2 separate regions of the Homo sapiens genome follow, and region 2 is linked to region 1. Evidence: fine-mapped expression QTL. A gene starts in region 1. The other region holds a variant in brackets. All regions are shown on one strand. Distances are from middle to middle. Region 1 holds the start of CKAP4 (cytoskeleton associated protein 4). Region 2 has its middle 21 kb from the start of CKAP4.

Region 1 (8,329 bases):
AGCAAAAAGAAGGGACTAAGTGAGGGGCAGGGAGAAGCACAGAGAATTAACCTGGATTCAAGACCTTCCCTATTTTGGCCTCAACTTCCAACCCACCCTCTCTCACAATTTCCTACATGTGACTCTGCCATTGGCAGGGTAGCCACCTCCTCTCTCTCAAACATGCTCAAAATAGTGCCCCTGCCACGGTGTTCATCACAGTCCTTCTCTCAACATTTATCGATCACCAGCTAGATGGCTGGCACTACCCTGGCCACCGGGATACAGGCGAAATTCCACACCCTCCCTCTTCTGAACTTTCACAGGAGTTACCCTCAACTGACACCTCCTTATGCGCTGCACAAGTGATTCGTGTCTTTTGCTCCTTCATACCCTCCCACAAAGCCTACACAGAGCCATGCAACTGTCAGACTTTAATAAATATTATGATTGACTAGTAAGTAGGAGGATGAAAGAGAAGAAACAGAGGCTAGTCATTATACTCCAGCAGTATGTCTATTTTTTAAGAATGGTTTGACATTCAGGATAGGCAAAGCAGCACTGCCTACTTAATTCCCTTAGAAAAGTCACCTCCCTTGGCCTGCAGCGTTTAGCAGGCTGACTCATTCCAGTTGCTCTGCCAGTCTTTTTTTTTTTTTTTTTTTTTTTTGAGACGGAGTCTCACTCTGTTGCCCCGGCTGGGGTGCACTGGCAGGATTTCCGCTCACTGCAACCTCCACCTCCCGGGTTCAAGCAATTCTCCTGCCTCAACCTCCTGAGTAGCTGGGACTACAGGCATGTGCCACCACACCCCGCTAATTTTTGTATTTTTAGTAGACACAGGGTTTCACCATGTTGGCCAGGCTGCTCTCAAACTTCTGACCTCAGGTGATCCGCCCGCCTCGGCCTCCTACAGTGCCGGGATTACAGGCGTGAGCCACCACGCCCGGCCGTGCTCTGCCAGTCTTAAGAGGAAATTCCTGGTCCTGCACACTCAACAAAAGCAGAGAGCAACTTGGCAGGACAGACAGCATGCTGGGAAAAGGAGGCAGTGGCTCCGGGATCAGAAGTGGCGGGATTTTTTGTTTCAGTCTTGCAACCAACTTTCATTGAGCAATGACATAGTGGAGGGCGAATAAGATCAAAGGGGCTGTACTTGGTATGGAAAAACCACAGAAGGGTGGAAGCTAAGCACCTTCGCCTTGAGAGTTGGGTCCATCCATACCTGAAATGGACCCCTGTGGACCCTTGACGAACAGGGCAGTGGCCTAGACATTCTCGTGTGTCTGTCACTCACCAGCTGGGGACTTTGTCAACTCATTCCTCTGTCTAAACCTCAATGTTCTGCTCTGGGAAATGAAATCAAAACTGTTAGTCCTCCCTCCCAGGGTAGTTATAAGAATTAGATAATATGTGAGTGAGTAAGCATTCTAAACACCATATAAATGTGGCTAGAAGTATTATTCACCAGTATGATCTAGTATTTTTGGCCCTCCTCTTCCCCTAAAGCGGAAGTAGGGCCGGGCGCAGTGGCTCACGCCTGTAATCCCAGCACTTTGGGAGGCCGAGGCAGGCGGATCACTTGAGGTCAGAAGTTCGAGACCAGCCTGGCCAATACGGTGAAACTTTGTCTCTACTACTAATAAAAAATTAGCTGGGTATGGTGGCACATGTCTGTAATCCCAGCTACTCAGGAGGCTGAGGCAGGAGAATCGCTGGAACCTGGGAGGCAGAGGTTGCAGTGAGCTGAGATCGTACCACTGCACTCCAGCCTGGGCGACAGAGCCAGACTCCCTCTCAAAAGAAAACCCAAAAAAGCTGAAGTAGGACTACGTCAAAGGCCCACCTGGGCAGGCTGGTCCAATACAGGACAAGGGACCTAAAGATAGATGGTATTTCATTTGGACCTGCAAATGAGTAAGAATGCCAGCTCCGGGTCTATTAAAAACCCCGCTCGGATGTCTCCCACAGGCAGAGCTGAGGTGGGGCCTTGCCTGAGGCTTCCAGGGATGCGCTGGCTTCCCTTCCAACCTCCTTTTCAGACAGCTCTGCCCATTCAGCGGTTCCTAATGCAGAAAGAATGGGCTCCCCGGAGCCTGCCGGCTTCCTTACAGGTCACCGCTAATGCCCTGTGACAGGCCCTTGGCCCACCCTGCCAGGCGGGCCTGGGCATCCTCGCGGCGGCCCATCCCTCGGGGCCGATTCCTCCGCAGCCATTAACAAAGGGGGTCTGGGGACTGCCTCGGAACTAGGGGGCCGCGTGGAGTGGGATGTCTAGGCCAGGGCCCGCCAAGGAGGAGCGGCCGGCTCCCGCCTCCGGGCCTGGGCAGGCAGCGCTAGGGGCCGGTCGGGAAGCACGAAGGAGCCCGGCCGTGGGTCCGGAGGCCGCAGTCGATGGGGACAGTTGCGGGGCCGGGGGTACCCACCTTCTGCTCGACGCCCTGCAAGCCCTGGCCCAGCTCCTCCCTCTGCCGGGAGAAGTCCTGGTGGCTGCGCCGGACCTGCTGGACCTCCTCCAGGACGTGGTGGACGCACCAGCCCGAGAAAGCGGCCGCCGCCACCAGGGCGAGGTAGAAGAGAAAGTTGAGCGCCCTGCCGAGCCTGCGCGAGCAGGACGCCGAGGACGAGGCGGCGGCGGCGGCAGCGGCGGCGGAGGCGGAGGAGGAGGAGGAGGACTTGCCGCCGCCGCCGCCGCCGCCGCGGTGGCCGCCCTTGCCGTGCGCCTGGTTCTGCGGGTGCTGCTGCGGGTGCTGCTGCGGGTGCGGCGCGGGCGGCGGCGGCGGCTGCTGCGGCGCCGGCGGCGGCTTCTTCGCCACGTCATCCGCGCCGCCCGACGGGTGGGCACCCTTCTCCGAGGGGCTCGCGGCGCCGTGGCCGCCCTTGGAGCCCCTTTGTTTGGCCGAGGGCATGGCGGGCGCGGCGGCGGCTCGGGCCGCGGGCTGGGAGGCGAGCGAGCGCGGCGCGCGGCCCGGGAAACTTGCAGGGGCTCCCCCGGGACTGGGCGAGCGGCACGCGGGCGCTGCTGGCGTCGGAGCGGCGAGAGGACGCGCGGCCGGGGAAGGAGGCCGGGCCGAGGAGGCGGGAGGAGGGGGCCTGCCTCCGCCGCCGCGGCGCCGACCCCGCCTCCCGGTAAGGGAGGCCGAGCGAGCCGAGCCGGGAGAGCTTGCCACGCACGCCGGCCCGGCGGCCCCTCCTCCCCGCCGCCACGACCCCGGAGAGGGAGGGCCGGGCGGGGTCTACGGGGGCCGGGAAGCCGGCGCGGGGGTGGCTGGGCGCGGGGCGGGGTCCCGGCGGGGTCTGCGGAGGCCGGGGTGGGCACCGAGGTGGCCGCGAGGGGAGGGGAGAAGAGCGGAGCGGAGGGGAGGGGACGCGGCCGAGGTGGGGCTGGCGGCCCGGCGGGTTCCACGCAGGCTGGGGGCGGAGGGCCAGATCGACCCCAGCCGGGGCGGCCGAGCAGGGTCCACGGGGGTCGGGGATGGGCGGCCAGGCGGGGTCGGAGGGACGAAAGCCGGGGTGAACCTGCGCCGCGGGCCAAGCGCGACCCCCTCCCTTCCCGACCTGTGCGGAGAGGAGAGAAATGAAGGGGGGCGCCCAAGGAGCCCTGGCCCCGGGAGTGGGAGTCAGCGGGTGGGAACAGATCGCCCTTCCTTTCCGCTGGGAATTGGGGGACTCCCCCTGCTTTCACTCTCCCAGCCCGCCATGGGGTTGGGCCTTGTCCTTTGCCTTGGGTTTGAAGGCGGAGACAAAAAAGGCTGTCCAAAATCCAGCCAGCTTGGGAGGCATGGTTGATGCGAGTTAGCAAAGATTCTCGACTGTGGTAAGTCTGTTCAAGGGGACGCATTCACCAAGTGTCCCCGTTAGCCAAGTTAGCCTGCTGTGGCCAGCTCTTTACTTTTTCCCCCCGAAGCCCCTTCAGCTCTGTTTTCTCTTTCGGGGTCATGAAGTTTGTCCACGGCCCCTACTCCTGACAGCCTCTGGGATGGGTGCTGCGGAGGCAGCAGCAGCCACACAGAAAGAGGCAGATCAGCGTTGTCACCCCTACTTTTGTAAAAGGAAATCTGGTATTGCCAGGCTGTGTGGTTAGCGACTCACATATGTTCTCGAAATCTCACAAAAGCCCTGTGAGGTAGAAATTATTTTACCCATTTTATAGGAAGGAAATTGAGACTGAGCGAGCCGGCTTCGGATTGGCTCAAGGTCACATATAGTCATCATTCGAACCTCACTCAGTCTGCTTCTTTCTGAAGTCTGTGCAGCTTAATCACTTCAGAATGGGAAGGAAACGGGGGCCCAGGGAAGTTAAGCAACTTGCCCACTCACTCAGTCTAATTGGTGCCGGGGCAGGGACAGAACTCACTCAATTCCACTGCTTTCCCCAGTTTCTGGTGAGTGATGTGTGCCTGGCACTGTGTGCACCTGGCACTGTGTGTAGTAGGAATGCTGTTTCTTCTGTCTGTAACCTCCTCCCAGTTCTGTAAACAAAGACAAAACCATGCCCTGCCCTTAAAGCCTATAGGGTTCAAATGCCACCTCTTTGATGATGCTTTCCCTATAACACCATTTGATACCTCTCATGGGACTTAGCAAGTAATTGCAACGAGAGGCATATATGTTAGTTCAATATAGCAAACCTTTGTTGAGGGCCCACTGTGTGCCAGGTATGTCTCCCCTCCCTGAGGACTGGAAGCAACCATAGTTTATATTTCTCCTTCTTTCTCGCTTTATAAGGTGTTGCTAAAAGCCTCCAGTGAATGAATGAACACTTGTGTGCCTGCCCTCAAGGAGCCTGCACTACACTTGGAGATATATACAGAAACCTGTTGAGGGCTAACTTAGGTAAATTGGGAACATAAATGTAAAGAGATTTGGAAAGCAAACCATTGGCCTGTACATGGGCAGGCTTTGGGGGCAGAAAGACCTTGAGCAGTGCCTTGAAGAATGATTTGCATATGAGGAGAGCAGGGAGGATATTTCTGTGGCGGAAATGGGGTGAGCCCAGGACACCTGTTGGCCATGAGGGTGTGTTCTACATGTAGAGAAGAAAGAGATGAACTGGGTGGAGCGGGTCCAGATTGCAGAAGGCTATAGAAGCCAAGCTGGCAGATAGAAGAATCGCTATTAGTGTGGGAGGACAGAGTAAATTATAGCAGGTTCTGGACTAGAAATACAACCATCTGCCCCAGACAGAGAGGAACACCCTACTTCAGCTAAATACCAGGAGCTATTGTAGGAGCCTCTAGGTTCAACAGGGCACAGGTCTCTGACCTGTGGCGCGGGGAGACAGCAGAAGAAATCAGAAGACACTCATCACAGGAACCTTGTTTAAAAACTATTCAGCTGAGTTCGGGTTGTGTTGTTAAAATCTCTAGCGCGCAAAAAGAGGTTATCCCCCTTCAAGCAGTTCTCCATGTTAGGGGCAGAGGCAGTGATAACTGGTAAAGCAGCTTGCTGCCAAGATCTGGCCTTGAAAGCAAGAGCCCTACTCCTTTAGTGCTACCAAAGTGTGTGACCTTGAGAAGTATCCCTAAACTCCTCTAGATTTCAGGGTCACCCTTTCTGTAAGGTGCATCTTTAAGGACCTGTCTTATTATTAATCCGTTTCTTAGAGAAATAGTCATCTGATCCTTATCAAAAATAATTAAATGATATTTAAATTTTTAAAAATTGATCCAGGCCAAGTACAGTGCCTCACACCTGTAATCCCAACGCTATGGGAGGCCAAGGCAGGAAGATCACTTGAGGCCAGGAGTTCAAGACCAGCCTAGATAACAGCAAGACCCTGACTCCACCAAAAAAAATTTAGCTGGATGTGGTGGCACTCAGGAGGCTGAGACAGGAGGATCGCTTGAGCCTGGGAGTTCAAGGTTATAGTGAGCTATGATGGCACCACTGTACTCCAGCCTGGGCAACAGAGCAAGACCCTGTCTCAGGAAAAAAAAAAAAGCAGACTGTAGGCCAGATATGAGAATGGACGGTTTCTCAATTTTTACCTCTACTGAGCACTGAATGAATGAATAGAGAGTAGGACGATGGGACTGTTAATATTTTCAGCATTTCCCTCTCATTCTTTTCCTCTGGGAGATAGTACATACAATGGTTAAGACACAGGCTATAGAATAGACTGACTTGGGTTCAAATTCAGCTCCATGACTGACTTTGGAGTGTGACCTCTCTGAACCTCAGTATCTTCAGCTATAAGACAGGAGTAATTGCTACCTCACTAGGCCAGGTGTGGTGGCTCACACCTATAATCCCAGTACTTGGGGAGGCCGAGGCAGATGGACTGCTTGAGCCCAAGAGTTCAAAACAAGCCTGGGCAACAAGGCAAAACCCTGTCCCTACAAAAAATACAAAAAAAAATTATCCAGGCATGGTGGAGTGTGACTGTAGTCCCAGCTACTTGGGGAGCTGAGGTGAGAGGATCACTTGGGCCTGGAAAGTCAAGGCTGCAGTGAGCCCTGTTCACCATTGCACTCCACCCAAAAAAAAAGAACAACCTTGCTGTTATGCGGATTAGACAAGAGACACCATATGATACTGGGCATATGGCAATGCTCAGTGAATATTGGACAGCTAATACAATTTGCAGAGTCACTGAGGAAAAGTATAGCTTCAGAGAGCTTCTGTGTCCAGATTTCAACGATTTTCTTTCATCATTATTTCGTGGGGCTCCCAGGACCATATGTGGCTCACAAACCACAGGCTAGGATGTGTTTAACGTTAAAAGCAAGCAGTGTGTTTCTCTGAAGTGTGGCTCCACCATGGTGTTCGGTTACACCCAGAGGAGGAGGCTGGTGGGCAGTCATAGAAGTGCATCTTCCAGAGCAGGAAGGGATCAACAGCTCTTCCTGGAGACTTCCATTCTCCTACCCCAGTTTCTGAGCACAGCATGAATCTAGAGGAGTTTCTCTTCTGCTTTTCCTCCTAGTTTTGTTTCCTCTATCCCTTTTCCTTGCTAAAGTGTGTTGGATGGTCAGGAATGTGGGCGGAGAAGAGGGGGAGCTGGAGACATCTCATCCTTTCATCCAGCTTGTGTAAAAATGCCTCAGAACTCCCTCATACCACATGCACCATAAATTATAAGGTCAAGCTTTGTAAGCCTGCAGCCCTCTTGGCTTTTTGCATGTTGGTTAGAATGCCTAAATAGAAAGCCTCTGTTAATGTTGATTGCCTCTTGTCTGTTCCAGGTTGGCAAGGCCCCCAGTGGCCAAGGCATGAGCCTGGATGCCCTGCAAATTGAGTACGTGTTAGGGATGGGGGCCATTCTTTATAGTTTGACTCTGGAGAGCTAGGACCACCTTTCCCAGCCTCAGGGGTGCACATCCTCAGGAGCTGCCTACCTCCAGATATTGTAAGTCCATGCAGAAGAGGAAGGGCCCAGCTGGGGCACCTCTTGGTTGAGGAATGAGTATGTGACATTTTCATGTGGGCACATTTTGATACTACTTTAAAAATAGACCAAGCACAGTGGCTCACACCTGTAATTCCAGCACTTCGGGACGCTGAGAGAGGTGGATCACCTGAGGTCAGGAGTTCGAGATCAGCCTGGCCAACATGGAGAAACCCCGCCTCTACTAAAAATACAAAACATTAGCTGGGTGTGGTGGCACACACCTGTAATTCCAGCTACTCGGGAGGCAGAAGCAGGAGAATCGCTTGAATCCAGGAGGCGGAGGTTGCAGTAAGCCGAGATCACGCCACTACACTCCAGCTTACACTGGACATGATGAGGAGGAGGAGGATGATGGTGGTGATTATGATAGAAATGGTGATGGTGATGATGACAATGGTGATAGTAGGGATGGTCTTGCTCTGTCGCAATCAATAAATGAATGCATAAACACATTTCTACTTGTTTTTGCAGTCCTAAGATAAGTGCTCAGTAGCATCCCTGCCCTTCTAATGTGAACTTGAGGGATGGGTAAGACCCAGAGATGGCATGGGGGACGGGATAAGGAAGGCCTACTGTTCATATTGTGAACATGAAATGGTTTTACATTTTGATGCCACTTCATTAAATTGACTGTATGATATGAGCTAACGCTACACCCTCCTTTAAATTTTGGCTAACACATCCATATCCTCAGGTGGTATCAGTTGATAATGCCCATGAAAATATTTTGTAAACTACAGGGTGCTAAACAATTATTTACTTGTATCCCTTTCTGTGGGGCACAGTTTGATGCTATACACAAAGCAGTGAAGTCTCGACAAGAATGATGACCACTACAATGAGCACAAAATAAAGTCTTTTTGGGGTTTTTTGTTTTTTGTTTTCTTTTTGGAGACAGGGTCTCGCTCTGTCACCCAGGCTGGAGTGCAATGGCACGATCTCAGCTCACTGCAACCT
Region 2 (8,329 bases), 22 kb before region 1:
CCTCTTACTAAGTGACCTGGTCAAGTCACATAAGCCATATGAAACTCAATTTCCTCAGCTGTAAATGGAACTAATAATACAACCTGCTTCACACACTTGTGAGGGATGAGTTAAAGCATGAAAATAATAATGGTAAACATTTAATGAGCACTTATTATGTGCTTATGATTTAGTTGTTTCAGACAGGTTGATAAATCCAGTCCCTGTTACTCTACCTGGCCAGAAACAGAAAGCAAGAGATTTTTTTTTTATGTATTTTCTTCTGAGATTTTTTTTTATCAGGATACATCAATCTGTGTAATATAGACATGCATGTATATATTCAACAAATCTTTGTTAGGTACCTGATAATAATGCTGTAAGCACTTTATAGATTTACTTCTCACGAATACTCTATGAGGTAGGTACTATTATAATCACCTCATTTTCCAGGTGAGGAACTGAGGCAATAAGTTTAAGTGCTTTGCCCCAAGTCACACACCCAGGTGGTCTAGCTGCAGAGCCTAAGTTTCTAGCCACGAGGCTATCCTGCCCCCACCAGCTCCAGAAACAAGTCCAAGGGTAATACCAGGACAGCGGGTAAGAGGGCCACAGCCACGGATGCAGGAATAGTCTGGAAAATGGGAAGTGAGGTAGGAGGGCCCTGAACAAGTCTCACCCACCCTATCCAGCGCTCACACTTCTGGTGCTGGCTTTGTGGTGCTAGGTGATTCTGGCAGGATCAGAGGCCAGTGGAGAAACAAATACCCAGAACCATCGAAAATACCCATTTGTCTCTTAATGACAAGCCCTTAGTCTTCCAGAGCACCCACTGAAATGACTCCAATGGAAAGAGACTCTGCCCAGAGTCAGAGGCTGGGAGGTGAGGGGACTGCCAATGGGGTTTCTGAAGCATAACAAGGCATGTTCGGTGGCCGCCTGAGCCAAGCCAGAAAGGGTTCGCCTGCTGACTTCACTTTTCATCTCTGCCAAGGAGCACCCAAGGCCACCACAGACTCTGCAGCAAGCCATTTCTGGAAGGCAGTTCCATCAAGAAAGAAAATAGGCTCTGCTTTTACAAAATGCAGAGATGGGCAAACCACCAGTGTGTGCTATCTGTAACTTTAATTGTTTCTTTGGGATTAAGCACTCCTCCAACAAGGGCAGGAGTGAGCTATAATGTCATGTTGGATTCCAGTCGACTTGGGGTGGTTTGACAGGCTGCCCAACCTGAGCATGTGACCCCAGGGGAGCTGTTTTAAGGCTTTTTTTTCCTCCTGCTGGATTCACTTAGACAGATTTTAGCCCCCAACAAAAGAAACTTTCCAGCCACACCCACCTCCTCCCCCAGCCCTTGCTTCTGGTTTCTTCCTTCTATAACCCACTTGGAATTCTTGGCTGATTCATTCCAGTTCTCTCCTGATGGGATTGCAGAATGTCAGAGCTAGAAGGGGCCATCAGGAAAAATTGGGCCAAGCTTCTTAACGGCAGGTCCCAGCTACTTCCATGCAGTCTGGCCTAGAACCTTCATCGGCTGCAGCTGCTCCCTCCCGGGCCGCTGCACTACAGTGCCCTCTTCTGGTAGTGGATGGCAATTGCCTCTGAGTGGCACCTGATTTTCAGGACTGTCCTGTGGCTCTGACATCTCCTCAGCATAGACTTTCTCTGCAGAGGGGCTCTAGGGGTTGAGTGTGTGGGCTGCCTCTCTGCAGATTTTACTCCCTCTCTCCTGTGCCCCTCCTTACCTCAGCAAGCCCCGGTTCCTTCCCGTGAAGGCTAGGAGGAAAGTAGCCATCTGCAGAAGAATCTGGGGAGGGACTGCCATGGTGGGCTTTAGTTCTTGGCTAGAAGAGCCTCTGTTCTCGGCAGGAGAAGCCAAATTGCACAAGAAAACCCAAAGATCTTCTTTGATGTACAAAGCCATGAAGTCACAGCCCTTAAAAGAGGTCGACAAAGAGCCCAAAGTTTCCATCAGGTTGACAATGTCCATGTAATTCATCTCACTCACTGCAAGGATCAAAACACCAAATGCTTCCAGGAGCCAGACAGGAGGCCTAAATGAATGGAGAAGCAGACACAAGTGAGTGGTGGGAAATGTGAGAATCTAGAGGCCACAGGCCCACCTGAAGACCTCACAATCAAACACAGGCCCACCTGAAGGCACTCACAATCAAACACAGGCCCACCTGAAGGCACTCACAATCAAACACAGGCCCACCTGAAGGCACTCACAATCAAACACAGGCCCACCTGAAGGCACTCACAATCAAACACAGGCCCACTTGAAGGCACTCACAATCAAACACAGGCCCACCTGAAGGCACTCATAATCAAAATTCCAAACTCAACGGGGCACAGTGGCTCATGCCTGTAATCCCAACACTTCAGCAGGCCGAGGTGCAAGGATTACTTGATCTGAGGAGTTTGATACCAGCCTAGGCAACATAGTGAGACCCCTGTCTCTATGAAAAGATCAAAACACGAGCCAGGTGTAGCGGTGTGCACCTGTGGTTCCAGCTACAAGAGAGGATTAAGCGGGAGGATCGCTTGAGCCCGGAGGGTCAAGGCTGCAAGTGAGCTATGATCATGCCACTGCACTCCAGCCTGGGCAATGGAGTAAGACCCTGTCAAAAAAAAAATTCTAAACTCACATTTTGCAGGCCAACAATAGAAGGGCTCATTTCACAAGCCTGGCATTTCAAATTCCCTGCATTTAGTCAATTTCTAAGTACTATTTATTGAGCACTTCACTGTCATGGCCACTGTTCTAAGCACCTCAGATGGAGTAAGCCTCACAACAACCCTATGAAGTAGGCACTATCATTAGCATCATTTGCATTTATAGGTGGGGAGACTGAGGCACGGAGCACTTAAGTAACTGTCCCGATGTCAGACAGATAGAATATGCCATGGCTGGGAACTCAAATAGTAAGGCTCAAAAACTCAACTTATCCAATTTCTTATCTTTTTTTTTTTTTTTTTTTTTGAGACAGGGTCTCACTTGGGCTAGAGGGCAGTGCTGCCGTCATGGGTCACTGCAGCCTTGACTTCCCAGGCTCAAGCAATCCTCCCACCTCAGCCTCCTGAATAGCTGGGTCTACAGACATGCATCACCACACCCGGCTAATTTTTATATTTTTTGTAGACATGGGGTTTTCCGCCATGTTGCCCAGGCTGGTCTCGAACTCCTGGGCTCAAGCAATCTGCCTGCCTTGTCCTCCCAAAGTGCTGGGATTACAGGCACAAGCCACTGCACCTGGCCAGAACCCAGTGTCTTAACCACCAGTACTATACACACAGTACAAGTACATAGTTGTATCCTGGGACATTATGGGAAGCTGATTTTATTACTATGGGAAAGGGAGTATGGTTTAACAGACAAAAAGCAGGCCTTATTAGAGACAAACAGAGTCCGAGTCCTGCTGCTACCACAGACTGCGTGCTCCCAGAGCAAATTAATGACCATTTCTTAGTGTCTGATCAGTAAATCAGAGACAACCACTTTTACTCCCTGGGATAATCGTCAGGGTAAGCGAGATGATAAATGTGTTCCACCTAAAGCATGACATCAAACACAAAACACAATTATGGGTGACTATTACTTAAGTGAAGGACTAAGCATCCAACATTTGACTTGCCTTATTTAAAGGGCGCCACTTGCACTTTTTTTTTTTTTTGTCCTTTTTGAAACAGAGTCTCACTCTGTTGCCCAGGCCGGAGTGCAGTGCTGTGATCTCAGCTCACAGCAACCTCCGCCTCCCAGGTTCAAGCGATTCTCCTGCCTCAGCCTCCCGAGTAGCTGGGATGACAGGCACGTGCCACCACGCCCAGCTAATTTTTTGTGTTTTTAGTAGAGATGGGGTTTCACCGTGTTAGCCAGGATGGTCTCGATCTCCGGACCTCGTGATCCGCCCACCTTGACCTCCCAAAGTGCTAGGATTACAGGCGTGAGCCACTGCGCACTTCTTAACTAGCTTGACATAGGAACGATAAAGGTCTTTCGGTATCTAAACTTCTACTAACAAAAGATTCATATTAAACAAAACCCTTTATTACCTAAGTTTTCAAAAGGGGCTAATTAGTAGGATAGTATACACATTACAAAAGCATTCATGTCACAGAGAAATACACACATAGGTCTTTTAAATAGTGGATTTCTCTGGTATTTTTAATGGTACAATTGGATTTTATCCCCTTTCTGGAACAAGAGCGAAAAATGAAGAAATCATTCCTGTGATCCCTGACTCTGACACTAGATGGCAATAAATTCTCACTTCAATTATGTTCTCTGGGTTCCTACTGCCACAGTCAGCTGATTTGGGGCTATTCCCCAGCTGAAAGTTCAGGGGCTTGAGCCGCTCTGGATTTTTTACTGGTGCATCCCGGCATCTTCTGAAAGTGAATAGTCTTCACATGAGGTTATCCAAGATGTCAGCCCGGCCCGGCCAACATTCCCCATTTCACCCCAATAAATGAGAAAACATTAATTGTGACCCAGTGTGTGCCGGCCCCCATGGGAGCTACAAACAGACCCTTGGTTAAGACAGAAGCCACCCTGGCCCCTAGAGATCTGCTCACTGTCTAGTCCTTTTTCCCTTAGGCCTCCTCCTGCCCACCCGAGGCTCCAAAAGACTCTTGTGCAATGGTTAAAGTCAAGGAAAGTTGGATCTGGAAGAGAACATGAAGATTACTTTATCTCCCCTCACTTTTCAGATGGGAAAACAGATGGAGGCCCAGAGAAGGAAAGTGAATTATCCTAGGCAGCACAGCCCGGCAGGCCAGCATTCGGACCAGAGTCCTGATTCCAGGTGACTTCCCCCATCCCTGCTGTTCTTGTCACACCATGTGAGAACTCCGTCCTGGAGTGCAAACCAAGATCATACCCGTGAATGGAAGAAAACAAAAAGACCTAGCCTTCTGAGTTTCCATGAAGGACTCTGTGGGACAGGATGTGTCCTCACACCAGCAGCCACACCCAGTTGGTAATGCCTCTTTCAACACAACATCACCAGCTATTTGAACACAG[G/A]CCGGGATTTCCCCACAGCCCCATTACCCAACAGGTATTGCTCCTGAGTGTTCGCTGCCACACGCGGGGGCTTGCACAGCAAGGCCAGGCTGCCACACCCCTTCCTGCCAAGAGTGGGTTTTGCTGCCTGCAGCAACTCAACTGCCCTGATTCTTCGCTTACTTCTGAGCATTTTGCATCTGTGCTTAGGCCTGGAGCCAAAACAAATTGTGGGGGATAAGAGAAGAAATTAGGCCCTGTCTTCTTAGCCAGTTAGTGTATGAGCTTGGGTGAACAACTTCTCTGAGACTCAGCCTCCCCATCTGTAAAACAACAGAATTAGATTAGAGCCTTCTCTCAGCCTTAGCTTTCTAAGGCCTGTCACATGGCTACTTAGCTATCATTACTATGAAAAGTAATCATGCGTAAATGCAGCACTTCACGTAATATATGTAGGCGTCATTTGTTTTCTGACCTGTACTAGTTTAACTATTAAAAGTATAAGCTTTTCTCTATGTGTTTCTTCCCCTTTAAAAAAAAAAAGTTTAATTACAAAATATTTCTGACCTATGAAAAGATATCAGGAATATGGGGAGGCCAGGCATGGTGGCTGACACCTGTAATCCCAGCACTTTGGGAGGCCAAGGCAGGTGATCACTTAAGTCCAGGAATTCAAGAACAGAGTGAGCAACAAGGCAAGAACTTGTCTCTACAAAAACACAAAAATTAGCCGGGTGTGGTGGTGCACGCCTGTTAGTCCCGGCTACTACTTGGGAGGCTGCGGTGGGAGAATCACTTGAGCTGGGGAGGTAGAGGCTACAGTGAGCCAAGATCGGCCACCGCACTGCAGCCTGGACGTATATATATCACATATATATATACCATCTCCCCATATTTTTTTATTTTTCTGAACAGAGCAAGACACTGTTCAAAAAAATTGTAAAAATGGGGAGATGGATATATATGTGATACACAAACATAGCAAAGTGTTCATTATAGTATCTAAGTAGTAGATATATGAGTGTCCGCTGGACAATTCTTTCAACTTTGCTGTTTGAATTTTCATAATAAAATATTGAAAGGAGAAAAAATGTATTATGAGTGATATCATGAATACTTAGGTAGCCTCCACTCAGCCTAAGAAATCAAATGATCTGAATTTGGATATTCGGTCTCCTAGTCATTTCTTGGTACTTTCACTACAATGTATAGTATTATTTTACACGGTAAAATGTCTTAGTTTTAAGAATTAAGGAATTTCTGAAGTGTCACACTGTGTATTTTGTCTGCAGCTTATTTTTTCACTCAGCATTTTAGTTGTGAGATTCATCCCCACGATATATGAGATTAGGATTTCTTCCTTTTTGTTGTCGTTTTGAGGTCTATTGTATGAACAAGTGATAGTGGATTTACTGATCTTGTAGCTACTTTCTCGGTGTTTCCACTTTTCTTTCTTCGTAAGCGGCGCTGCTGTGCCCATTCTCTCCACGGCTGCATGTCGCCTTGTGCGCAGGAAAGGGGACACAGTGGTGTTCAGGGGCTCTGTGGAGACACACATGGCCTCTAGCACAAGTGACCTGGGTGTTCAAACTATGTCCTCAGGAACCTGTGTTTTGCCGACTCTTGGTTCTGTTTTCTTCTATGCTGGCCTCATTCTCAGTGGACTCTGCACATGTGGTGGCCTTTAGCAGCCCTGGGCATTTATCCAGCTTGGCAGTCCCGGTGGGCAGAAAGCATCCCTTTCCAGAAAGTTCCAGCAGTAGTCAATGGACTGGATGGCGACCTGTATTCCTCCTGCACAAGTCAAACCAGATTTCTGATTGGCCAAACCTGGGTCATGCACTCAGCCCAGTCAGTCTCATCAAAGCCAAATGGACTGAGAGTGGGGAAGGGGTGATTCCCTAACAGAAAACAGAGAAGTGGTCACCAAATGAAGGAGGACTGGATGCTGGGCAGGCAACAACACATGTCCAGGACCCAGCAGTCCTCATGTGGTCCCTTGACCGCTGCACAGGTCACCCTGCATGTGATTATGGTGCCATTTACATGTCTGTGTCCCCTGTTTGGCTGGGAGCCTCTCAAAGAGGAAGACTTCATCTTTCATCTCATCTCCGCTGAGCAAATGCAGCTCAGCACCCAGTTTATAATAAATGACAGTAGGTGGAATCAATCCCTTGACCAAACACATCCTGAAGACGGGGAAGGGCAATTCAACCCTCTGCCTCTGAGGTTTTAGGTCCTCCCTCTGTGAACCCAGTCAGAGGGGTATGACGAAGAAAACGTCCACTACACCTCACCCTCTCTTTTTCTCTCTGAGTTACTGACCATCAGGACAAATGCAGTGTCCAGTTCAGAAGTCAGTATGTTCTCAAACAGCTGCCCTTTATTGAACACCTACTATGTCTCACACTTTTTTTTAATATATGGCTGGGCAAGATTCATCCAGATAGGAATGTTTCCAGCCTTCTGTGAATATGCTGAAAACAACTGTACACTTTAATAGGGTGAACTTTATGGTATGTGAATTTTATCTCAGTAAAGCTGTCATTTTTTAAAAGAAATACCAAGTCTTATATGGTATGATTTCATCTCTACAAAATTCAAAAATGGGCAAAATATTCTATGGTGATAGCAGAATAGTGGTTAGGTTAGAGGGTATTGACTGAGGAGCACGGGGAGCCCCTGGTGTGCTGGAAAAGTTGCATATCTTGATCTGGTAGTGAGTACATGGAGATATCGTGTGCAGAAATTCATTCAGCCATATATTTCAGATGTGTGTGCCTTAAAGCACCAAAGTTGCACCTCAACAAAAAGTAATCCCAAACAGTGATGTCTTTTTAAGTGAAGAAAAGAAACCAGTTCTAGAGCAGTACAAAATTTTAATGGTTTACCATTAAAATGTAATGGTTTGCCATTACTTTTAATGGCAAAAAACACGATTACTTTTGAACCAACCTAATAACTCAAGCTATTGGGTTCTAAACCTGGCTACCCCACTTGCTAGCTATGACTAGGAAGTACTTTGTCCAAGTTACTGAATCGCTCTGTACCTCAGTTTCCCCATCAGTAAAATGGAGAGGCCAATAGTACCTACCCTTAGGACTATTATAATGATTGAATGAGATAATCCTCGTAAAACCTTTAGAGCAGTGTCTGGCACATAGTAAATGCTCAATAAATTTTAGTTATTTCTGTTATTATTGATGTGGGCCAAGCACAATGATCTCTGTGGATGCAGAGATGAAAGACAGAGCCTTATTCTCATGTGGAACACACCAGAAGCAAGCGGTCATGATACAGACAGAGGAGCACTTTGAAGACAAGAAGCCTGGAGTGTGGGCTCTC

The links.
Region 2: its variant is fine-mapped to the expression of CKAP4 in whole blood (TOPMed, PIP above 0.99).

Annotation. Positions count from the first base shown.
Region 1 is chr12:106,244,964-106,253,292 of GRCh38, forward strand. CKAP4 (cytoskeleton associated protein 4) reads right to left here and starts at 3,057. Exons shown (of 2, transcript NM_006825.4): 1 at 2,406-3,057. The coding sequence starts at 2,888. LOC124903008 (a long non-coding RNA gene) reads left to right here and starts at 3,309. Exons shown (of 2, transcript XR_007063443.1): 1 at 3,309-3,796; 2 at 4,708-7,824. RefSeq lists silencers at 2,203-2,292, 2,953-3,262, 3,293-3,632.
Region 2 is chr12:106,222,747-106,231,075 of GRCh38, forward strand. No RefSeq gene overlaps it. Among named protein-coding and RNA genes, the nearest start is that of CKAP4, 21 kb to the right of the region's middle. RefSeq lists an enhancer at 1,431-1,480 and a silencer at 1,531-1,640. The variant G/A (reference allele first, on the strand shown) is at 5,006.